Homo sapiens: one gene and its partners. The protein of the gene in region 4 purifies or fractionates together with the protein of the main gene of each other region. This does not show direct contact. Each region holds a gene or a part of one and is shown on either strand. Other genes may lie near its edges. The genes, in order: USP9X, MAP3K7, QKI, MALT1 and CYLD.

Evidence for each region.
Region 1: the proteins of MALT1 (region 4) and USP9X purify together in Homo sapiens (affinity purification with western blotting, with the first as the bait; one study listed by BioGRID). This does not show direct contact.
Region 2: the proteins of MALT1 (region 4) and MAP3K7 purify together in Homo sapiens (affinity purification with western blotting; 2 studies listed by BioGRID and IntAct, with this or other methods). This does not show direct contact.
Region 3: the proteins of MALT1 (region 4) and QKI purify together in Homo sapiens (co-immunoprecipitation; one study listed by IntAct). This does not show direct contact.
Region 5: the proteins of MALT1 (region 4) and CYLD purify together in Homo sapiens (affinity purification with western blotting, with the first as the bait; one study listed by BioGRID). This does not show direct contact.

The regions. Positions count from the first base shown.
Region 1 is NC_000023.11:41,168,269-41,173,324, forward strand, and holds part of USP9X (ubiquitin carboxyl-terminal hydrolase 9X), read left to right. Parts: intron 1-1,726; coding exon 1,727-1,967; intron 1,968-2,201; coding exon 2,202-2,351; intron 2,352-3,569; coding exon 3,570-3,690; intron 3,691-5,056.
Region 2 is NC_000006.12:90,552,448-90,556,379, forward strand, and holds part of MAP3K7 (mitogen-activated protein kinase kinase kinase 7), read right to left. Parts: intron 1,140-3,932; coding exon 1,011-1,139; intron 1-1,010. UniProt on the Homo sapiens protein: Serine/threonine kinase which acts as an essential component of the MAP kinase signal transduction pathway. Plays an important role in the cascades of cellular responses evoked by changes in the environment.
Region 3 is NC_000006.12:163,557,718-163,562,773, reverse strand, and holds part of QKI (KH domain-containing RNA-binding protein QKI), read right to left. Parts: intron 793-5,056; coding exon 705-792; intron 1-704. UniProt on the Homo sapiens protein: RNA reader protein, which recognizes and binds specific RNAs, thereby regulating RNA metabolic processes, such as pre-mRNA splicing, circular RNA (circRNA) formation, mRNA export, mRNA stability and/or translation.
Region 4 is NC_000018.10:58,733,065-58,738,120, forward strand, and holds part of MALT1 (mucosa-associated lymphoid tissue lymphoma translocation protein 1), read left to right. Parts: intron 1-332; coding exon 333-510; intron 511-817; exon of another isoform or gene 818-916; intron 917-1,242; coding exon 1,243-1,317; exon of another isoform or gene 1,318-1,323; intron 1,324-2,137; coding exon 2,138-2,265; intron 2,266-5,056. UniProt on the Homo sapiens protein: Protease that enhances BCL10-induced activation: acts via formation of CBM complexes that channel adaptive and innate immune signaling downstream of CARD domain-containing proteins (CARD9, CARD11 and CARD14) to activate NF-kappa-B and MAP kinase p38 pathways which stimulate expression of genes encoding pro-inflammatory cytokines and chemokines.
Region 5 is NC_000016.10:50,782,997-50,788,052, forward strand, and holds part of CYLD (ubiquitin carboxyl-terminal hydrolase CYLD), read left to right. Parts: intron 1-862; exon of another isoform or gene 863-1,193; intron 1,194-1,332; coding exon 1,333-1,455; intron 1,456-3,842; coding exon of another isoform or gene 3,843-3,858; coding exon 3,859-3,950; intron 3,951-4,789; coding exon 4,790-4,856; intron 4,857-5,056. UniProt on the Homo sapiens protein: Deubiquitinase that specifically cleaves 'Lys-63'- and linear 'Met-1'-linked polyubiquitin chains and is involved in NF-kappa-B activation and TNF-alpha-induced necroptosis.

The DNA of each region.
Region 1 (5,056 bases), on a different chromosome or scaffold from region 4:
TCCTAGCCATTTGGTAAAAGGAGAGCAGAAATTTTTCTCGTTTGAAAATTGTTGTCTTTGCCCATTAAAAACATTTTCATTTCATCTAATTTTTTTTAATAACCTCCCCCACTCTCCCATCTGGTTTTGTTTTGGTTTTTTGGGTGAGGCATTCTTAAGTTGTTTTCTAGTTTTCTTTTTGTCTTTGACATTATTACTCATTAAGTGTTGCAGTGGCATTTTGCAGTTGAAGTGTTTTTGTTTATTTGTTTATTTTGAGAAAAGGTCTTATTCTGTCACCCAGGCTGGAATGCCGAGGTGTAATCATGGCTCACTGCGGGCTCAAGCGACCTTTCCACCTCAGCCTCCCAGGTAGCTGGGGCTACAGGCACAGGCTACCACACCTGGCTAATTTTTTTTGACTTTTTGTGGAGGTGGGGTTTCACTACATTGCCCAGGCTGGTTTCAAACTCCTACGCTCAAGCAAATCCTCCTGCTTTGGCCTCCCAAAGTGCTGGGATTATAGGCGTGAGCTACAGTGCCTGGCCTGTAAAGAGCTCTTAAAAGCTGCCTTGCATGGCATATAACAAATATTTTCAAATGGTGTTTATAGTTTTGGGATGTTTTGTGTAGTCAATGCCATCATTTTTTTTAAAGAGTTTTGTTTATTAATCATGAAATTATATACAGTTGCTTCTTGAATATGATTTTTATTTTGTATTTTACTTTAAAAAAGGTACTATACCAATATAAATAGCATTTTGGAGTGAATTTTGATATGAAGGCTTTTTTCCAGAAAAAAAATAAAGTGCATTGTGGCATTTTTGTTGATGCTTTTAACAAAATGTAAAACGACCTTTTAAATGTAAAAGGTAAACTCTACCTTCTTTTTTTGAATTTTTTTTTTTATTAATACAAGGTCTACCTATGTTGTCGAGGCTGGTCTTGAACTCCTGGGCTCAAGGGATCTTCTTTGCTTGGCCTCCCAAAGTGGTAGGATTACAGGCATGAGCCACTGCGTCCAGCCAACCTTTTACATTTAAAAATAGTCTTAGTGAGTTGGGCTTTTACAGCATAAAAATAAGCGTTATATCTTGGATTTAATTTCATTTTAGTAGACACCTCATTTTCTGCAACCATAGATACAAGACTAACAACAATAGAATATGATTATGTTTTTAAATATTATTTATATTTTTAGTTAAAAGGAGCAATATTTTTTTTTCTTTTGCATTTCACTCTTGTTGCCCAGGCTGGAGTGCAGTGGTGCAGTCTCGGATCACTGCAACCTTTGCCTCCCAGGTTCAAGCGATTCTCCAGCCTCAGCCTCCCAAGTAGCTGGGATTACAGGCGCCCACCACCAAGCCTGGCTTATTTTCTGTATTTTTAGTAGAGATGGAGTTTTACCATGTTGGCCAGGCTGATCTCGAACTACTGACCTCAAGTGATCCACCCGCCTCGGCCTCCCAAAGTGCTGGGATTATAGGCATGAGGCACCATGCCTGGCCTTATTTTCAAGATACTGAAAGTAATACAGGTTGAGTATCCCTAATCCAAGAAATCCAAAATTTGTCTGGTCCCAGACATTTCATATAAGGGATTCTCAAGCTGTATTAAGTATCTTTAATTCACATCCTCTTGTTTAATAAGAAAATACTTAGTGTTAAATCCCCAGCATTATTTTCTTGGCAACAAAATTTCAGAGTCTGCTGAATATGATGATGTCTGTCTTTCTTTTTCCCCCCAGAGCATTCCGCGGTAAACACCTCTCTTTTGTAGTTCGATTTCCAAACCAGGGCAGACAGGTTGATGACTTGGAGGTATGGTCTCATACAAATGATACAATTGGTTCAGTACGACGATGTATTCTCAATCGTATTAAAGCCAACGTAGCCCATACAAAAATTGAGCTCTTTGTGGGCGGTGAGCTGATAGATCCTGCAGATGATAGAAAGTTGATTGGACAATTAAACTTAAAAGATAAATCGGTATGTATGTATAGTTAACAGATTTTTCAATAAAATCAAACCAGAGACTATCGTTTAATCAGTAAATACTAATTGAGCATTTGTTATGTTTGGGACTGTGTTAGGTGTTAGAGTTATAGCATTAAAGTATAGCATGTAGTCTTTCGGATTTTTTGGTTGGTATATCACTAAGTTTTGTGTTTTGTGTAAGTATTTTTCCTTGTTTTTGATATTAACATAGTATATAATTTTCAGCTTATTACAGCCAAACTTACACAGATAAGTTCCAATATGCCTTCAAGCCCTGATAGCTCTTCTGATTCCTCCACTGGATCTCCTGGAAACCATGGTAATCATTACAGTGATGGTCCCAATCCAGAAGTGGAAAGCTGTTTGCCTGGAGTGGTGAGTAGATACAGTTTTGAACTACTGTATGTAAGGCATCATGCTAGGGTTTTTGAGAATAAAGTATATAGAGTGGTTCTTTCTTTTCTTGAGGAGCTTACAGTTTAATGAGACAAAAAAATACAGTTAACCACCAACTTCAGAATGGATCCCTCTAAAAGGTAATTGTAACACAGTTGGAATTTAAAACATAATTTCCCCATAGGTATAGTATTGTTACTTTTACATAAAATTAACCAATTAGAGCTTAATTATAACACTATTGGATGTATAAATTTAGAGGAAAACAGTCATCCCTCGTATACGTGGAGAATTGGTTCCAGGACCTCTGCATATACCCAAAATGCTGCAGATGACCCTGTGCAACCAGATATACAAAAAGTTAGCCTTCCATATACTTGGGTTTTGCTTGCTGGAAATACTGAATTTTCTGTCCACATTTGATTGGGAAAAAAGTCTGCATGTAAATGGACCTGTGCAGTTCAAACTTGTGTTGTTCAAGAGTCAGCTGTATCACTTTCTAAAATTTATACCACAAAACGGATAGTTCTTTTAGAACTATATATGAGCTGGGCATGGTGGCTCACACCTGTAATTCCAGCTACTGGGGAGGCTGTGAGGCAGGAGGATTGCTTGAGCCCAGGAGTTCTAGGCTGCAGTGAGCTGCGATTGTGCCATTATGCTCTAGCCTGGTCAACAGAGTGAGACCCCATCTCTAAAAATATAAATAAATGAAAACAAGAACTATGTAGGAAAATACCTGTAATCTTTATCAGATTGTCAGTAACATATAGCCAAAGAAATATTTTTAAGCTCTCCTTTCGCCCCTCCCGACAGAAATTTTAATGGTTACAATAGTAGCAGCCACTCCAGTGTCAGGAGGATTTGGCTCTCTATAACAACTGGATTAAGAATTTGGTAGTGGGCATGGCAGCCTTTTGTTATGTCCAGAGTCTAAATTGTATATATGAGAGAAATGGTTTAATAGAACAGGAGAGGAGCTATCACAAAAAAATGACTGGAAGTGACTTGATGATGTATTTGATCTGCACTATTAAGGATTTGTAGGGATTAAAAGATGGGAAAGTCAGACTATTTCAAAGAGTAGAAATTTCATAAGTAAAAGTATAGGGATTAACACAGAGAAACTTACTTGGGCTTTTATAAAACGGGAGTAAATAATTTAGAGGTAATTATTTTGTGTATTTTATATTCTAGATAATGTCACTGCATCCCAGATACATCTCTTTTCTTTGGCAAGTTGCAGACTTAGGTAGCAGCCTAAATATGCCACCCCTTAGAGATGGAGCAAGAGTACTTATGAAACTTATGCCGCCAGGTAAGAATTTTTAAATGATGATCAAGTACTTGCTGGACAATAAAGGAGTATATTAGCAAATTCTGTTTCTAAATGGACCGTGCTTTTTGGTATAGACTATAACAAGAGTTGACAGATGACAGCCCACAAGCCACATCAAGCCCCCTGCTTGTTTTTGTGCATCCCAAGAGCTATATTTTTAAGTGGCTACAAAAAAAAAATCTAGAAGAATAATATTTTGTGATACATGAAAATTATATGAAGTTTAAATTTTAGTGTCCATGATCAAAACCAGGCTCATTTGTTTACATTCAGTCTACATGACTGCTTTTGTCTTAAAATAGCACCGCCCAGGAGTTGTGGCAGAGGCCATATGGTTCACAAGCCTAAACTGCTTAACTTTCCTGGCCCTTTACAGAAAATGTTTGCCTATACCTGGACTATAATATGGGTCATGTGTCATCTGCGGTATTGTTCCTTTTTTATCCTTAGAAACAACCACTTCCAACTTCTCGCTTTTACTTTAGTATATATATGTACCATTATGTCTGGAGTGTCCTCATACAGCTATTTCTTTGTTACTTACAGATATATACTGATTTTCTGCTGTGTAGATGAAAACTTAACTGTTACATACCCCCACATCCTCCCAGTATTTGCTTAAATCCAGATTCAACATCTACGTTTCCAAGATTGTTTGAAATATAGTTCTCTAGATCACTGACAACTTTTATCCTGGATTTAATAATTTCCCTTTTATTTTCCTGATTGTACACCTATCACTTATTCTTCCCACATACTTTTTTTTGAGATATTTTTTATCTGAATGTGGGCAAACTATCACGTTTGATTAATGGTTTGTGTATAGAATCCTAGGTTTGAAAATATATTCCTTCTGGCTGGTGGCATTGCTGATGAGAAGACCAAAGTCCTCTTGGTTTCTATTCCTTTGCATGTGACCTTCGTTTCTGGAAGTTTTGGTTTTATCCTTACGTTTTGAAATATTATGATGTGCCTTAGCGTTAAGTCTGTTTTGTGGTGCGTCACCTGTGGGCCTGGAGATTTCCTCAGTTGAGAGAGATTTGTATTCTTTGATAGTTTTCTCACCAGCATTTTGCGTTTTGTGTGTCTTTGAAATGTCTAAGTGTGATGGTGAATTTACTAGATCTGATTTTACCTTTTCTCTCTTCCCTTCTCTCTTTAATCTTATTCCACCTTTGGGGTGGCTTCTTTAACCTTTTCCAGCTCTTCTGTTGGCTTTTCCCCTCCAAATATTCTAGTGTTAAAATTTCAAGACCTTTGTCTCCTTAGTGATCCTTTTCCATATACAGGATTTTGTTTTTCACTAACACATTCTTGCATTTATGTTCTAATATATGTGTGTTCC
Region 2 (3,932 bases), on a different chromosome or scaffold from region 4:
TGATACTAATGGTAGTAATATTAAAGGCAGTATAGGAAACTGGTAAAAACAGCTAAGATTACTCAGATGATGGTACTGTTTGATAAATCTATGAATGACCTAAATAATTAGGCAGACATTTGTTTTTAGACTTGTGGAATAATGTAAAAAATGGCCATTAGTCACATGATTATAAACAAGGCATAGAAATGAAATAACTAAGAGTGGCGCTAAAATTAAGAAGGTAAGTAATTTTCCTTCATGAAAAGCTATTTTCCCAAGCAAATGTAAAGTAACTTTACTAATGAAGAGGATGCATTCTAACATCATATGTGGTTAAAAACAACATTACCAGAACTATAAAAGAAACAGGACAGATGCAAGGACATTGAGTCCATAAGTCAATATGACTTAAGATATGAGCATTCAAGTCAGAAGCATCTGGATTTGAATCCCAGCTCTACCACTTACTAATCTTGTGACCTTAAGCAAGTTATTTAACCTCTCTAGGCCTCAGTTTCCTAATCTGTAAAATGAGGCAACAGTACTCACCTTCTAAGGGTGGGTGAGAATATAAACAGGAAAAATATGTGAAGCATTATTATTCTTTGCTTCTTCTCCTTGATGAGGCCCTTGCTTCTTCAGGAGAAAAGGGCTATAACTCTCCAGTTATATTAACCATGTCAGAGATTTTATGTATGTATTTTTTTATTTTTTCCATGATCCAGCCTGATGCTTCTCCCTAAGAGAGAGCCAACTGTCTAGGTTGCGTACTGATGGCCTTTCCCTAATCAGCGGAGCCAGTGAACATCCTCAGCCGCATGTGTAGACCAGGACTACTCTCAATCCTGCTCTGCTGGACTCTGGGGCAGGGACAGGGCAGAGTCTGATAATAGCAAAGCAGTCTCTTAACAAAGAATTGTACATTTTAATGTTAGAGATAAATGATATTCTTTAGGGAAGGGGACAGGAGTAGTCTTCCAAGTAGAAAACACAAAAAGTACTTTTAAGAAAAATTTCTTTTTACGAACCATTATGAACAGCCCACATGATTCGGAAAGCTGGGCCACCAATCTCATCAAAGGGTTTCCGACGCGTTATCACTTCCCAAAGAATAATACCCCAGCTGAAGACGTCACATTTTTCACTGTAATTACTACCTAGAAAAAAAAAAGGTAGTATATAACCTAAAGACTATTTTTCCACATGACTTACAGAAACAATGGCTTAAATTTTGAGAATGGGTATCAGGGATAAAAATGAGGCTGTCACATGTAGAACTAAGAAACTACTCTTTCTGAAGTACTTTGTCTTTTCAACAAGTACATTTTTAAATGAATTAAGTATCAACAATACACTAAAAAACTACTTCAGAAACTCAGTTATTTTCTATCTTTTTTCATCAAGAGGCAGTTTTTTCATCAAGAGGCACAGGACTTGACTTTTATGTATTTAGACTGATACTTTCTCTGGGGCAGAGTATGAAACATCTGTACATTCCTTTATGTTGTTTATTATTATTTTATTCTGAGACAGGATCTCACACTCTCATCCAGGCTGGAGCTCAGTGTAGCCTCAAACTCTTGGGCTCAAGTGATCCTCCTGAGTAGCTGGGGCTACAGGCATGCGCTGGCACAACTGGTTAATTTTTTAAATTTTTTGTAGAGATGGGGTCTTGCCATGTTGCCCAGGCTGGTCTCAAACTCCTGGGCTCAACTGATCCTCCTGCTCTGGCCTCCCGAGGCGCTGGGATCACAGGCATGAGCCATTGTGCCTGGCCTCCTTTCTGTTACATTTTAATCTTAAATTTTCTTCCCACTCTGACAGACAGCACTACTCTGCTATCAAAGCAGAAGAACTTTCTAATTTAGTGTTACAGTTTTTTCCTCAATATATGGTGAAGGGAAATTCTTAATTTATAAACTTAAACATTACGTTGTAAGTAACGAAAATTATGGATAACCTGAGTTACACAGCAAAATTTACAAACTAAGTAGGTGGTTGAATCAGCCAGCACAATAAGCACCCGTCATAATCTCCCAAAAACAAACAAACACTCAACTCACTGTAAGAATGAACAATTATTATAGCTATAGCTTTACATGCTAAGCAGTACACTGTAATATAGCACTACAACCATGCTACAGTCTAATTTGGGCTACAGGTTGACTGACATCTTTCAGAAATGAAGAAACTTACACAGCCTAACAGTCTGCATTTTGTTGCTCTAGACAATTAAGGGTTGTCTAGAGCAATAAAATTAATCTTTTGTATAAACAAATCTTTTTGCTCTCCACATACAGTAACATTGGGTCATTTTAACTCACATAAAGGTATATTAAATAAGTAAATAATTTTAAAACAATGTCAAATGTATACATTCTGTATATGAAACAGGAGGCATTATTTAATCTTGTGTAATATAACACCTGATTATTCATTTATTACTAAATTGAATTTTAGGGCAAAAGAGCTCCACTCAGGTGACTAGTTGCATTGCAATTTCTCTTCCTCTGGGGTGGCTAAAAACAAACAGAAAACCCTTTAAAGTCATCAAAACTGAAAGAAATAAGCTATAACCAGAGTCTGATTAACTGAATGTATCTGAATTTTATGGGCATTTACACTTCCTAACATACAAATCACATACCTTCAGTTCAACTTCTTTCATTTAAAAGATAATTTGATGTTTTTATACAGAAACCTAGCATATAATTTACAGACAACTCTTTTAAAACTTCAGTGACATATGGAGGTATAAAAGAAGGTAAACATATAAGCTTGACATTTATTTGTAATTCTTAGTATCTTATTTCTGTCCAATTACTTGCATTCTTTTTTTTTTTTGAGATGGAGTCTTGCTCTGTCACCCAGGCTGGAGTGCAGTGGCACGATCTCGGCTCACTGCATGCTCCGCCTCCCGGGTTCACACCATTCTCCTGCCTCAGCCTCCCGAGTAGCTGGGACTACGGGCGCCCGCCACCACGCCCGGCGAATTTTTTGTAGTTTTAGTAGAGATGGGGTTTCACCGTGTTATACAGGATGGTCTCGATCTCCTGACCTCATGATCCGCCCACCTCAGCCTCCCAAAGTGCTGAGATTACAGGCCTGAGCCACCGCGCCCAGCTATTTGCATTCTTTTTAAGGCATCCTCATTTAAACTTTAGGGCTCTCAATTTTTAATTGCTAGGAAACCAATACAAAAGCACAGTTAATTCTCATTATTCCTGGTATTTATGTTCTATAAAGTTTCTGAGAACACTGAATTAGTGAACACTGAATCACTGCTCCTAAGGAAAATACAGGGGTAGGTTCCTGTGTGCCTCTGGTCACCATGTTTTTGTCAACTGATCAATATATAGCCTTGTTTCATGCGTATTTCTGCTTAAAGACACCTTATTCATATATACTGTTGATTTATTACCATTGAACTCATAGTCAACATTTCTGTAACTCATGCCTGAATGAAGATAATTTAACATATGTATATTGTCTGTTAAGATACATCATAGCCTTCTTGTACTTAGGCAGTACTATGCTTGAGGGCCATTTTAAGTAGCAAAATTACCAACAAAAATCACAAAAATGAAAAAGGGCTCTGAACAGCACAAAAAAGGACACCTGCTTACAGCATGAGAGCTGAAACAAGACGGAAAAACGTTGTCTTGTTCAACCTCAGCTGGAAGCATGCGTTAGATGACTCAAAATTTGCACTGCTCAGCGCATGCACACTGTCTGCGAGTACATGAAAGCACTGTCTGCAAATAACCATGAAAGCACCATGAGTATTAATTTTGGGGTTACAAATAAATGTTAGCAAATAGGCAATTTTGCAATTAAGAAATTGGTGAACAATGAGGATCAACTGTACATATGCTTAGAAGCATAGAAGATTTAAATCTTACTATAAAATTTAGGATATAACACTATATTTAATATCCCCTTAGATTTCA
Region 3 (5,056 bases), on a different chromosome or scaffold from region 4:
GGCTAGAACTTAAAAATTCTATGTGTTTTAAATAATCAGTAATTTAAACATGGTATGTTCATATAAATGACATGTATGAATCTTAAATTGTTTCAAAATATAAATTTCACATTATTTCATTTTAAACATAAAAAAGCTATCCTCTTACGGCTTATAAAAACATGCATAGATACGCATAAAAACAAAAATAGGACGGAAAAAGAGTTATCACCCACTGATCTCTGTGAACTCACATATGAAATCAACAGGGAAAAATACTAGAGGGAAAACATGCAAGCAAAGTGAAAGGACAGAACTCAACAGAGGGTCATTTCAGTCAGATACACTTCAAATTCACTTTTTCAAAATAAGCTTTCAATATGTTGTCTTTTGCATAAATTTAACAAGATAAGCTGCAAGCCCTACATCTGTAGTTAACCAAACAGAAAATTTCTTAAACACTTGAATTTAGAGATTGTGATTTTGTTAAAATAATGTAAGTTTATCAACCTAAAACTTCAACATGCTGACATAAAATAAAATCAAGAGTGTCCTCAATTCATGAAAGCATTAAAAATAGGACTGTCAGCCCCATATCAAGTGACAGAACAGTTATTTCAACTGTTCACTTTGTATGAACTATTATTGTGTTGCCAAAAGGAAAAAAGTCTGTAGACAAAACAACGCAGACAGCAGTAACCCTGGGCCTCAGAGCTCATTCTTACGTGATTTAATGTTGGCATCTCTGTAGGTGCCATTCAGAATCGCAAGCTCCATCAGCTGCATCTTCTTCAGGCTGTCTTCTCCTTCTGCCTATACATGGAAAACACATGAGATGAAAGCATTTGAGACTGTCCACAAATATAATAGCTATATCTACACACAAGCCTTAAAGTAAGTATCATGTGACTACAGTCACCTGTTTTAATAAGGGGAAAAAAAGATCAAGAACCAAAAGGTGCTAACATAATGGAGCCTGCTTTCTCTGTTTTCTCAGTAAAGGCATGTTGATATACAGCATATTGTATTTGTAAATTTTTTGTCAGTTACACCGATTTATTAAAGTTCCCCTAAAAAGCTTTACTTTTAAATAGAAATGAATGAAAATGTGAGATAAGACTAAACATAACATATTCTCTTCAGCATCTATCATTTTAAAATTACTTTAATTAATTTTATTGTTTTTAGATACAGGGTCTTGCTCTGTTACCCAGGCTGGAGTGCTGTGGCATGATCCTAGCTCACAGCCACCTTGAATTCCTAGGTTCGAGCCATCCTCCTACCTCAGCCTCCGAAGTAGCTGCGACTAGAGGCACGCGCCACCATGCCTGGCTAATTTTTTTTATTTTTTGTAGAGACAAGGTCTCGTTTTGTAGCCCAGGCTGGTCTCAAACTCCTGGCTTCAAGTGATCCTCCTGCTTCAGCCTCCCAAAGTGCTAAGTTTACAAGTGTGAGCCACTGCACCCAGCCAGCAACTATCATTTTGCTGAATATTCCAAAACTCAAATGTGTTCGTTAAACACACACATACACACACGCGCGTGCACATGTGCACACAAATAATTTTAAACATACAAGATTTGATTACAGAATTTAGGTAAGGAAATTTTATGCTTAATTCTTCAAAATATGAAAACTCAGTGAAATAATAACTTCTAAAAAACCGTATATTCTGCTCTCTTACACCACCATCCCTGTCTCCTTTCAATCTAATTAGCAAGTGCTATCAATGCTACAGCAATCTATCTTTAGGGTCACCATATGATTTATTGTCCAAAGCAGAAAACTTTTAAAAGCAAAAATGGGCACTAATAATAACCATGCTTCAAACCTAAATCAGGATAGTCTCTAATCATCAAAATGTTTGGCCACCCCATTTACCTTGAATTGGTCCCACTCTTTCCATTTACTGTTCCAGTTGTTTTTGGCATAGCACCCAAACTACTAAAACATGTTGCTAATGGTGTCTGTTCTCCAATCAATCTCTACACAAAGGCCAGATTAATTGCCCAAATCACAATTTTCATCATGTTTCTCAACATTCTGTCTCAAAACACTTTCATGGTTTCTTACTATCTAAAAATATAAAAAACTTTAGTTGCCTATAATCTGGTCCCAAAATATCCTCTCAAGTTAAGCCCATTAACCTACTACTTTACACACGTATGTAAGTAACATCTTAAGTCAAACCAGATTGCTCTCCACCATTCATCTCTGTGCATATTCCCACTTCCTCCATCCTAAGTGCTCCCCTGCGCACTCTCTGCCCCTCTCTCTTTCCAAATCCTACCTATCCCCATCCCCACAAACTTCAACCTAAATGCTACCTTCCTTCTCCAGGGGCCATCCCTAGATTACAGTAGATCCTCACTTAATGTGGTCAATACATTCTTTAAAACTAACTTTAAGTGAAACGACAGACAGCAGGTCCTCAAATAATGCCACTGCTTTCAACATGGTTTCATTATAACATTGATGAAAAAAGAGGCTGCAATATACTCATTTTGTTTAAAGTTGTATCTCCAAGAACCTATCGACAAAGTTAATTGCTTCTACTTCAAATTACAGTCTGTTGAGTATCACCACTCCCAAAGTAAGCTCCATGAGAATAGGGCTTATTTCTTTGTTACCACTGCCTAACCCCATGTTCCCACGGCCACCCCCAAGTTACTTACTAGAACTTATAAGTGACTGGTATGAGAAGTCTTTAACTTTATTTCCAAATCCCAAATGTCTCAGTCCAACATAAACTTTAGCCACAGTCAAAGCAAGCAGTAGATGAGGGTCCATCTATCAAAGTCTGTGTAGAGATAGAACTAACTGCCCCCCACTTTTATGTATCATCGAATCCCAGTAACTTTACATGACTTTGTGATATTTACAATGAAAGTAACACAATGCAACAATTTTCTGACATAGTCTTGTTCCTCTCTGATTCATAAAACGGGAAGGACGACCAGGACACAGGCTTCTCAGTGCTCCTTTCTATTATAGCTGTAATGACACACAAAATTCTGTTTTTGGCATTACAATGGTGAATGGTATACTATAATATATAGTAAACAGAACTGTTCAGTGAGCTTTTAGTAAATCACAAGAATTAAAGAAAAATATGAGTGAAACATAAAGACAATGTTTTGATGTGCTACTGCCAACTTTTTAAAAACCTACTTTGCAGAAGATTACAGGGAGTGGATACTGGCATGCCTGTAGAATTTGACTCCTATCAACTTGTACAAAGATGAACAAAAAGTAAGTATGATCTTAGAAAGACACAGAAATTATTTGTTAAAAACGAAATAAGTAAGCTACTATTGGAAAAGAAGAATCAAATCCATTATAATAAAACTTCAACTTATTTGCTAAAAACTAGTCATTTGAAAATTAAAACTTATCAAAAGTTTCAAATTTAAATTTATATATAAAAATGGAATACCAAAAGTATTATAAATTATACTCTACATAAAAAAAGAAAAAGAAGAGCAGTAGGTTTACCTCCAGTCATCTACCATAGCGAGAAAGAAGTGGTACAAGTTTGAAAATGTCAGCAAATAAGAGGGCAAATTTACTTCCAACAAAGAGGAAATAAAGACGAAAGACGAGTTTCCTGCAGAAGGGCAGGTGCTTGAAAACATGTTGGCACTGAACTGCTCCTTTTGGATAGCAAAATAGCTATTCATTATTTGGCAATGGAGTGTCAAACAAGGGAGAAAACCACAGAGAAAAAAGATGGAAGAAATGTGTGTGATTACCACTGTGTGTGCACACTTGTGTAATGTGCAGGGTGCAGGATAATGAAAACAGGAGAGATCACCCTAAGAGAATAAAAATAAGAGTGGCATAGGAGGAGATCCTGGTGTAGTCTGCCATATGGTGTTGCTGGAGGTGATGGTATGTTACACCAGATCACAGCCACATTTTGGCAGGGTACACTAATGCCTCCCAGAAATGCACAGGATTTAGTTGGCAGAGCTGGAATTTGATTCTAGGTGGTCTCAGTCCAGGATGGGCTTCACCCTCATGTCCTGACCACTCCCCTCCACTCTGTATTCACAGGGCATGATCTTGTGTGTCTTAAGAGACAACAGGGTTCACTGGCCGGGTGTGGTGGCTCACGCCTGTAATCCCAACACTTTGGGAGGCTGAGGTGGGCAGATCATGAAGATTAGGAGTTCGAGACCAGCCTGGCCAACATGGTGAAACTCTGTCTCTACTAAAAATACAAAAATTAGCTGGGCGTGGTGGCAGGTGCCTGTAATCCCAGCTACTTAGGAGGCTGAGGAAAGAGAATCGCTTGAACTTGGAAGGCGGAGGTTGCAGTGAGTCGACATCGCGCCGTTGCACTCCAGCCTAGGCAACAGGGCGAGACTGTCTCAAAAAAAAAAAAAAAGAAAAAGAAAAAAAAAGAAGAGACAACAGGGTTAATTATAGAATTACTTTCACATCGAAGTGGTTATTTCAATGTTACTGTCCTGGTTTTGACAATGAGATTTGGTAGTACGTACCTGCCTAAACACTGTTGAAGGTATATATCACCTCTTTTTCAAATATAAGTTCAGATGAGAAAACTAAGTTTCTTCTACAGTCTAGAGGCTCTAGAGCTTCTATGAGCCAGTCTTCAGACCAGTTTTTCTGACCTCTTTTTTTCTCAAAAATTACAACTGATCAAACAGGGCATCCTGAAGTTGTACATGTCAACTCCAGATAGTTCACAAAGTATCCTGCAGAACCTTGATCGGGAATGAGCAACTCTACAGAGACAGAACACTAACTTTTACATTTGTAAAATGGGTCATTAAAATCATATTTTGTAATACTGAACTCAAGTGATTATCCGCAATCTCATAGCTTCTGGTTTCCTAAGTATTTGCCCTATATTCAAGAATCATTTAAAAAATGGAAGCAAAATTCACATGCAGTGGACTCCCAAGATCTTAAGTGCAATATCCAGTCACGATATTTCTTTTTTTTTTTTTAAGTTTTTGTGGGCACACAGTAGGTGTATGTATATATAAAGTACATGTGATATTTTGATACAGGCATATAATGCATATTAATCACATCAGGGTAAATGGAG
Region 4 (5,056 bases):
CACGCCCAGCCAATTTTTGTATTTTTAGGAGAGATGGGGTTTCACCACGTTGGCCAGGCTGGTTTCGAACCCCTGACCTCAAGTGATCTGCCTGCCTCGGCCTCCCAAAGTGCTGGGATTATAGGTGTGAGCCGTCATGCCTGGCCTGTTGCCAATAATTTTAAATGCAAAATAACATTGTCTATATTTATAATTGGGTATTTCTTACATATGCTCACATCAACCTGAAGAAAATTAAAGTCAAGGTTTTTCTACAAAAAGTTATGCAGTCTGTATGTTCAGAGTGCATTTAGAATTGACATCTATCTCTCTCTTATTTTTCCTCTTTTCAGGGTTATTATATTATGCAGGACATGGTTATGAAAATTTTGGGAACAGCTTCATGGTCCCCGTTGATGCTCCAAATCCATATAGGTCTGAAAATTGTCTGTGTGTACAAAATATACTGAAATTGATGCAAGAAAAAGAAACTGGACTTAATGTGTTCTTATTGGATATGTGTAGGAAAAGGTAAGTTTTCTAATCTTTATTAAAGAATTGTTGGAGTTAAATATCGACCATGACAAACTAGAGAAACCTGTGAAATGCTAAAAGCCATTTGCGTTTGTGAATTTTAGTTTATACATTGAAACTGGAAGAACAAAACTAGAGGAAAATACATTTACTCCATGTATATCTAATTATTTTAACTCTTCATATTTGCTATAGAACACAAATGAAGAACTAAAGGGCATGGGCATTTACTCACACTACAGGGGATTCAACTCTCCAGAATGCCTTTAGATGACTTTAATAATCACTATAGTTATTCCCTCAGGAATTAACAAAACCAACACCCATGGAGTTGGGATCTCTGCTCACTAGTCAGTCCTGGTCTTCCAGACATGGAATGAGTAGCCGAAGCAGATGTTTGGAGGTTTGGATCCCATTTGTCTGCCATTGCCTTTCTAAGGAGTAGAACCAATGACTGTTCCTCTAGATTTACTATTTTTTTGCTTGCTCAGCATTTACCAATCAAAATCCAATGCCAGAGTTCAAATGCAACTCTAGTTTTAAAGCTAACAAGGAGTTAGTGGGTTATTTTGGGTAGATATGTAGCTACCTAGATGAAAAATTTTGAATCTATAATTTTAAATTATGTATTCTAAAAAACTGTTGTATTTTCTCATTATTTATACCCTTTTAAGAATGCTCTTTAACTTTTCATATTTCTATCTGCCCTCCTCCGCCTCCCTTAAATAGAAATGACTACGATGATACCATTCCAATCTTGGATGCACTAAAAGTCACCGCCAATATTGTGTTTGGATATGCCACGTAAGAACATTTGATGTTTACGTTGAAGTTTCCTTTATTGTTTGATGTCTTTTTGTTTTTGCTTTTTAGGAGCAGGGGTCTTAACTCTGTCACCCAGGCTGGAGTGCAGAGGCGCCATCATAGCTCACTGCTCCTGGGCTCAAGCGATCCTCCTGCCTCAGCCTTCTGAGTCGCTGGGATTACAGGCATGTGCCACTGTGCCTGGCCCCTGAGGGTTTTTTGATTATAGATTAGAGGCCTAGAAAATACCTATAGACATGTAGGCATAAATTTACCTCCTTGATATTCTGCGTAGAAAATTTTAAATGATCGACTTTAGCATTCCATATCATGGTATCTTAATTATTAAGCCCAAATTGGGCATGTAATTCCTGCTTAAAGATTAACTCTTTAATTATCAATGTCATGTGAGAGGCAGAAGAGAAAATGAAGCTTATTGGTGTATACAGAAGTCCCATGTGGCAAGTGTTTGCTTTTCTAACATTTTCTTTTTAAAAAATTATTTTTATTGGATATTGACAAGTTATAATTGTATGTATTTATGGGATACAAAGATATGCTATGATGTACGTATTCAATGTGGAATGATTGAATCAAGATAATTCACATATCACCTCAAATACTTATCTTTTTTCCTAACTGAAACATTGTACCCTGTGACTAACAGTCCCCACGCTGTCCCCACCCCCCCCCAGCCTCTGGTAACCACCATTCTGCTGGGTGCTTCTCTGAGTTCATTTTTATTAGCATCCACATATAAGTGAGAACATACAGTATTTGCCTTTCTGTGCCTGGCTTAACTTCTTTTTCTATTTTTAAGGTGTCAAGGAGCAGAAGCTTTTGAAATCCAGCATTCTGGATTGGCAAATGGAATCTTTATGAAATTTTTAAAAGACAGATTATTAGAAGATAAGAAAATCACTGTGTTACTGGATGAAGTTGCAGAAGGTAAAATAAAAAATAAAGAGAAAAGTACTCAGAAAAAGGAGAGCAGGGGAGACACACCTATTCAGGGTTCCCTCTCTGGTGATTGTTTTATTCTTATTATGTGGGTTTGGAATTAGTACCTACTTTATAAAACAATTTTTATATTAATATAACGTTCAGCAACACTTCTGCTATTTAATGTCATCTTTCCTTCCCTTTTGACCTAGCTCTCCACCATCTGTGCAGCATTACTCAGACTACAAGGCTAAGCCTCGGCACAGTCATTAATAAAGTTGAATTCTCAGAGCTCTACTTTGCTTCTATGCCCAGTGCCTTGGTACTGGCAAATCTCCCTATTTGAGGGTGGGTGGGTGGCATGGAGGGGTGGTGGGGAATTGTCCAGTGAGCAGTCTCTCCCAGGATGGGAGAGAGAAAACTTTACAGAAATTTTTAGACACTGCTGGGAAAAGCTGAGTTCATTTTTTTCCCTGATGAACTTAGTAGTTTTTAAATCCTGATTTAAGGATGTGATCCTAGGGGGTCTAATGCCACATCTTCCATTTCTATCTGTTCTCCCTGCCTGCTGGTATAATGCTGTGCATATGTCAGATGCTGAACAAGTACCTATTATTTCAGTAGATTGCACTGTGTTTTTTGAAAAAACATTTTATAAGCCATAGCAAAAAGAAGGTAACTTGGCCAGGTATGGTGGCTCAAGCCTGTAATCCCAGCACTTTGGGAAGCTGAGGCAGGAGGATCACTTAAGGCCAAGAGTTCAAGACCAGCCTAGGCAACATAGCGAGACCCTGTCTTCAAAATAAAAAATAAAAATAAAAAAGAAGAAATTATTTTACAAACTAGCACCACTAGAAAATGGAGTTTCATGGATGTTCCAGTGATGGCAGTTTGGGTATAAGGTGTTTGACCAACTGTCAGCCATATTTATTTTCATGTTTTTATCTGTGTAGCTATTTTAGATCACTTGACTTAGCCACTTTTCCATTTAACATAACCAGCCAGGGCTTTGGACTTCCTGCCACCCTCCCGCTTCATCCAGAGAAGTTCCACTTTTATTTGTTTTCTACATTAGGCTTCTTCTGAAGCTTACATTTGAAGGAAAGGCTCTGCTGCTTTAAAAAAAAAAAAAGAAAGAAAGAAAACCTTTGGATTATGTCAGTTATATTCAAACTGAGATCCAGTAAGGTGCTCCAGAAACTCTACAGTGTTTTATTTCAATTTCGTTTTTAAGTCCATTTTAACTATTTTAAAACTTAATAAAAAGCACCATGCTCACTCACATATGATATTTACCAAATTGTCATAGCAATGAATGGCATCCCGATATGTGCTGTGAGGATATTTGAACTTCTTATAAACATCTTAGACAGTTTTGCTTTTCGCTGATCTTTTTCAGTCCTACCATGTCTGCTTAACCAGAATTGCCCAGGCAGGAAGACCCTGTAGTGTACATGGAGCACACTCAGCTCAGTGCCGTGCACATTGTGCCCTTCGTGGGTAACGGCCCACTCATTGTACAAAATAAGTAAAGGCCTAATAGTATCATGATAAATAATACAGTTAAATCTAGCCCTTATTTTGAGTTTTGGATGCTTTGTGTCTGACCCCTGTCTTAGTAGTAAAGAGCAAAAGTAGTTGTATGAAATTTTTCACAAGTCATCCAATTTTGAAACAAAACTTTGCTGTTTCTCCCTTTGGATCTTCCAGATTACTTAATTGAAACTCATTCCATGGCTGGGCATGGTGGCTCACACCTGTAATCCCAGCACTTTGGGAGGCTGAGGTAGGAGGATTGCTTGAGCCCAGGAATTCAAGACCAGTCTGGGCAACACAGCAAGACCCCATCTCAATTTAAAAAAAAAATTATTTGGGGCCAGGTACAGTGGCTCATGCCTGTAATCCCAGCATTTGGGGAGGCTGAGGCAGGAGAATCACTTGAACACAGAAGTTTGAGACCAACCTAGGCAACATTGTCAGACCCCCCATCTCTATAAAAATTTAAAAAATTAGCCAGGCATTATGGTGTGCACCTGCAGTGCCAGCTACTCGCGAGACTTAGGTGGGAGGATTGCTCGAGCCTGGCAGTTTGAGACTGTAGTAAGTATGACCACACCACTGCTCTCCAGCATGTGTGACAGAGCAAGCCCCATCTCAAAAAAAAAAAAAAAGAAAATTCCAGAGGGAGAAAAGTATTCACAGATTATAAGCCAAGCAGTTGAAGGGGAAAATAAACATGTTACCAATTTCTTTTTTTAATTTTTTGGTTTCTTTGTGTGAGACTACAGAGTCTCTGTCGCGCAGGCTAGAGTGCAGTGGCATGATCTTGGCTTACTGCAACGTCCACCTCCCAGGTTCAAGTGATCCTCTTGCCGCAGCCTCCCAAGTAGCTGGGACTAAAGGCACACACCACCACGTCCGGCTAATTTTTGTATTTTTGGTAGAGATAGGGTTTCGCCATGTTGGCCAGGCCTGTCTCGAACTCCTGGCCTCAAGTGATCCACCGGCCTCAGCCTCCCAAAGTTCTGGGATTACAGACGTGAGCCACCACGCCCGGCCCACCTTACCAATTTCAACTGTGTGCAAGGAAAACAAAATATGAGGTAAATTGGTTGTTATAATGCTACAGCCATCAATCTGTAACGTGACTTTTATTTTTGTACTATTCAGGACAGCATTATTATTAGAAGTGTTGAACATACTACTGAAGGTTTTCATTGTGAGTAGATGTTCGATATGAATATAGGACCTTGAAGTAACCTACATCTAATTATAGGACCCCTCTTCTCCCTTCCCC
Region 5 (5,056 bases), on a different chromosome or scaffold from region 4:
TCATTGCAACCTCTGCCTCCCAGGTTCAAGCGATTCTCTTGACTCAGCCTCCTGAGTAGCTGGGATTACAGGTGTGAACCACCACTTCTGGCTAACTTTCTTTTTTGTATTTTCAGTAGAGACGGGGGTTTCACCACGTTGGCCAGGCTGGTCTCGAACGTCTCACCTCAAATGATCTACCCGCCTTGGCCTCCCAAAGTGCTTGGGATTACGGGCATGAGCCACCACGCCCAGCCTTAACATTGCAAGGATCTTTAAGCTCTGGAAATTGAACCAAGAATCTTTAGGCTCTGAGGATTGTAGACTGGGCTAAATTGAGAGTAGCCTGCCAGTTCTGTAGCCATATGATAAGAATTAGGAAGTTAATATGGGATGTTAACATTTTTAAAGTAGGAAGAAGAATAAAGTGGCGGCCATTTTATTTGCAGAATACTTTGACAAAAACAAACCTTGTAGCATTGATATAATATTCTTTAGATTTCCTGATAAAAATCTATATTAGCTAAATTTTCTTTTTCTTTGATAACAGCAAGTTACTGCTGTCACTCGTTTATTTTTTTGAGAAGGAGTCTCGCTGTGTCGCCCAGGCTGGAATGCAGTGACGTGATCTCGGCTCACTGGAACCTCCACCTCCCGGGTTCAAGCGATTCTCCTATCTCAGCCTCCCAAGTAGCTGGGACTTCAGGTGCACTCCATCATGCCTGGCTAATTTTTGTATTTTTAGTAGAGACGGGGTTTCACCATATTGGTCAGGCTGGTCTCAAACTCCTGACCTCAGGTGATTCACCCGTCTCGGCCTCCCAAAGTTCTGGGATTGCAGGCATGAGCCACCGCACCTGGCCTGTTAGTCACTCATAAGTGATTTTAGCATTTAAAGAAATTTATTAATGTAATAGATCTTTGCAAAGGGGCATGGGGAGAGGGAAGTGGGGCACTGAATAGTGCTTGCCTCGGGAAGTCGTTTCCAAATGCTGTCCTCTGTTGTCTGTTTGTAATTTGACTGATATTTGTAGTCTCTCTATCAACTTTTGCAAAGAAGTTTTCTTTCTTAATATTCTGTTGGCACGTTGTTATCCTTTAACACTGCCAATCTGCCGTTTGCTTTCTCAGTATTATTGGTGTTGTCCTTAACATGGAAGGATCTGTAGGTCCTGATGATTGAACCATGGGTATCTTCACAGGGGTCCTGGTACCTGTGTTAATGAAAAACACAAATTGTTATGTTATTTGTTCTCCAGACTTTACTTATTTTCCTCTTCTAATTCTGTTAAAAATCTGTTTCTTGAAAAATATGTTTACAGCATGAAGAAAATTATCCTTTTTCTTTTGCAGCTTATTTGCTTTTAGTTCTGTTCTGGACACTGTGTTACTTAGACCCAAAGAAAAGAACGATGTAGAATATTATAGTGAAACCCAAGAGCTACTGAGGACAGAAATTGTTAATCCTCTGAGAATGTAAGTAGAAAACAAATTGCTATTTTGCCTTTACATGGTGTTCTATTTGCTGTTTTCTGGTATAGTAATTAATTTATACCTTGTCTTCATGTAATAAGAGATGGGTGAAAATTAGTTCTTATGGTAAAATATTACGTTTTTAAACCTTTGGTCCTTGTACTTTTTTGCTTATTTAATTTCTTAAATGTGGCCAAGGTGTAGAACATAGCATATTCCATGAAATGATTTAACCTATTTTGCTAGAGTAAACTATAATTTAGCAATTGCAGTATGTTTAGGAAAGCTAATACATAATACTTAGGATTCTTATCTTTTGAAATAGTTTATTCCAACACTTCTGCTACAAGTAATCATGCTTATTAGTTAAATTGGTGTAGTCTAGCTTCTTAAATCTGAAAGAAAAGGAGAAAGGGAAATTCTTTATAGAATAGCTAGTGTTTAATACTTTGGACTAGCAACAGATGAGATGTATTTTAGTACCATATTTTTTGGTTAAAGGAATATATTTGGCCTCTTTCCACCTGCCTTAAAAAGGTGATTCTTTTTCCATTTCCTACTTTAGGAATTATAAATATGTCTTTTTATGGCCACAGGAAGCAATTTGTAATGGTACAAGCACAAGTGACAGGAGATATCTAGTAAAGACTTTGAATAAGTGGTAGTAGTGATATGTGATAATGTCACATTATAAAATTTAAACTATGAAGAATTAGGACCATAGATCATAAAACAAATTTGTTCATTCAGGAATATAGAGAGAAAGTGATTTATTTAAAGTCCATATTAAGATAAATTTGAATCCTTTTATATACTGTTCTTATTTATCAATTAAAGTAAAAAATAGTTTGATATCAAATTTGAACCAAAAAAGCAGAATACTCAAATACAATGAGGATTCCAAATTATCTGCTATATCACATGACTAGGAAAGTAAATTATAAGAGAATAAATTTCCTCACTTATATCTTTTGCTTTCTTTAAATTCTGTAATGATTTCTCTAATGATCTTACTCTTTAAGATAATTGTGAATCTTGATTTTCACATCAACTATTTTGTCTTATGCAAATTTTTAAACATACGATTTTTTTCCCCCAAGTAATTGATACTGGAACAAGACAGGTCAAACCCGAAACTCTAAGGCATGTTAACACCTCCTTCCTAGAAGAGAGGAAGAATAAACATTCTTTGGATCCTATTGTTCAGCCAGTTAAGAATCATAGTTAATCACACTTTCTTACCCTGTCCACGGTAAGAAACTGGTCAGATGCCCTGTTGTGATCAGGATTCCCTGTGTCTGTAGCATTCATATCTGTATATAGCTGACTGGTTTTATTTGGTGCTGAAATCTCTGCTTTTCTTCAGAGACCCTGTCTTTTTAACCTTACTCATTTTGTATTCCCAGTGGCTGACAGGTTACGTTACTATGTAAGTGGTAGATTCTCAGTCTGTATTGGTTGCAGGAAACTAATGAGTGAATGAATAGTATAAAAAGTGGATATAAAATTAGCTAGTTCTGACTTGTCCTTAGTAAACTTATGGTAGCCGCCAAGTTCTCCTCTGAAGCCATTTTTAGAATTACAAATTTAAAGTGATATTAAACTGATTGAATGTGTCTTGCATTCAGACAAAGAAGAGAGAAAATGTCATCATTATGCCAATTGGTTTGATTGCAGATTTTAGATTTTCAGTTTCTTATAAATTCCCTTTCCCATTTCCCTTGGTGGCTGTTTCACACTTCAGTATTAAAAGGATATTCTCTCTCAAAATTGTATATTCTGCTTTATAAAGTAAATGCTTTAATTTCCCAAGCAAATATTATTTAAAAAATCAGTCACAGCAAACCTAAAAATTTTTTATCTTAGTGTATGACAGTTACTTGTAGAGCATATAATAGTGTCTAGGATAATTCTGGTTCTAGATCTTTAATTTTGCAAACTTCAAGAAGAAGCTTATCATTGTTTTCTTCAAAAATAATTGTCTAACCTATTGATTTATGACATACTGGAGTTGTATAAGAAATGTGTTGGCCAGGTGTGGTGGCGCACACCTGTAATCCCAGCACTTTGGGAGGCCGAGGTGGGCGGATCACTTGAGGCCAGGAGTTCAAGAGCAGCCTGGCCAACATGGTGAAACCCTGTTTCTACTAAAAATACAAAAATTAGCTGGATGTGGTGGTGCACGCCTGTAATTCCAGCTACTTTGGTGGCTGAGGCATGAGAATCTCTTGAGCCTGGAAGGCGGAGGTTGCAGTGAGCTGAGATCGGGCCACTGCACACTCCAGCCTGAGTGATAGAGTGAGACTCTATCTCAAAAAAAAAAAAGAAAAAAAGAAATATGTGATTAAGATGTGTTATATAATTTAATACATGCCAATATCAATTAATAGTTTTTTACTAACTTAGATATGGATATGTGTGTGCCACAAAAATTATGAAACTGAGGAAAATACTTGAAAAGGTGGAGGCTGCATCAGGATTTACCTCTGAAGAAAAAGGTGACCATCTTAACTTATATGCGTTAAAAATAACTGAAGAGCATATTCACATGTCAAAGTATTAGCTGAAATGTGTGTCTGTGTAGTTGGGGGGTTTTCTTTTAAATTAGAAATTTCTTTTTATGTGATATATGGTTAGCTCCTCTTTTTGTAAATTCTTCCTCTCTTCTAAAAGTGATTGATGATGTGGAATAATGAACTCCTTTAAGAAGCTGGCTGGTTCTAGTATATTAAATGCTTAAATAAAAAGTCCTTTCCTTTCCACCTAGCAATGATATTCTCAGTTGTTTCTCTCTTGTGGTGCAGAGTTGCATTGGGTTTTCTACATTTTCCCACTGAGTCTTCCCTGTTGTAAAAGGGAGTTAGAAAGCTGCTAACTAGGATTAAGTTTATAGTCAGGGAACAGTGTTATAATCTCTTCCTAGCTAATGGGCTTACTCAAAGATTCACCACCTGACTTTGAATTTGTCAGCAGCATACTGTAAACAGCTGTAATGTTCAGAGGCTTGCAGGAAAAAACAGAGCATACTTCAGATTGTACTCCATTTACCTTAACCCCTCCAAAGGAAATAACAGCTATTTCATTATGTGCAATGTGTTACACCCTTTCAAATGTAATAAACTCACAACAAAATTGAAACATAATACTTGATTATAACTTATTAAATGTCTTTTATGTTTTTCCTTTGTCAGGAAAACTTGAAAACTGTGCTTTTAATTGAAATAATATTGGATGAATGAAACTGAATTCAGTATTAAAATTTGACTGTTAGAAATGAAAAATAAAATGATTTAAAAATTTTGCCTGTGACTTATTTGATTTTTAAATTTTCTCCTAGATCCTGAGGAATTCTTGAATATTCTGTTTCATCATATTTTAAGGGTAGAACCTTTGCTAAAAATAAGGTAACCTTTAAATTGTTCTAGAAGCATTGGAAAAATAGACAATTCTCATTTCTACTGCCATTATTCAACAGACATGATTTCCAGAATGATTTCTTAATATTGTATTTGTTTAGGGCTCTTAATAGGCTAGGGGAATATCATGCAAGTTAATTTTATTTGTTGTCCTTGCCACAGTACCATAGTTTACTTGAAGATCAAAT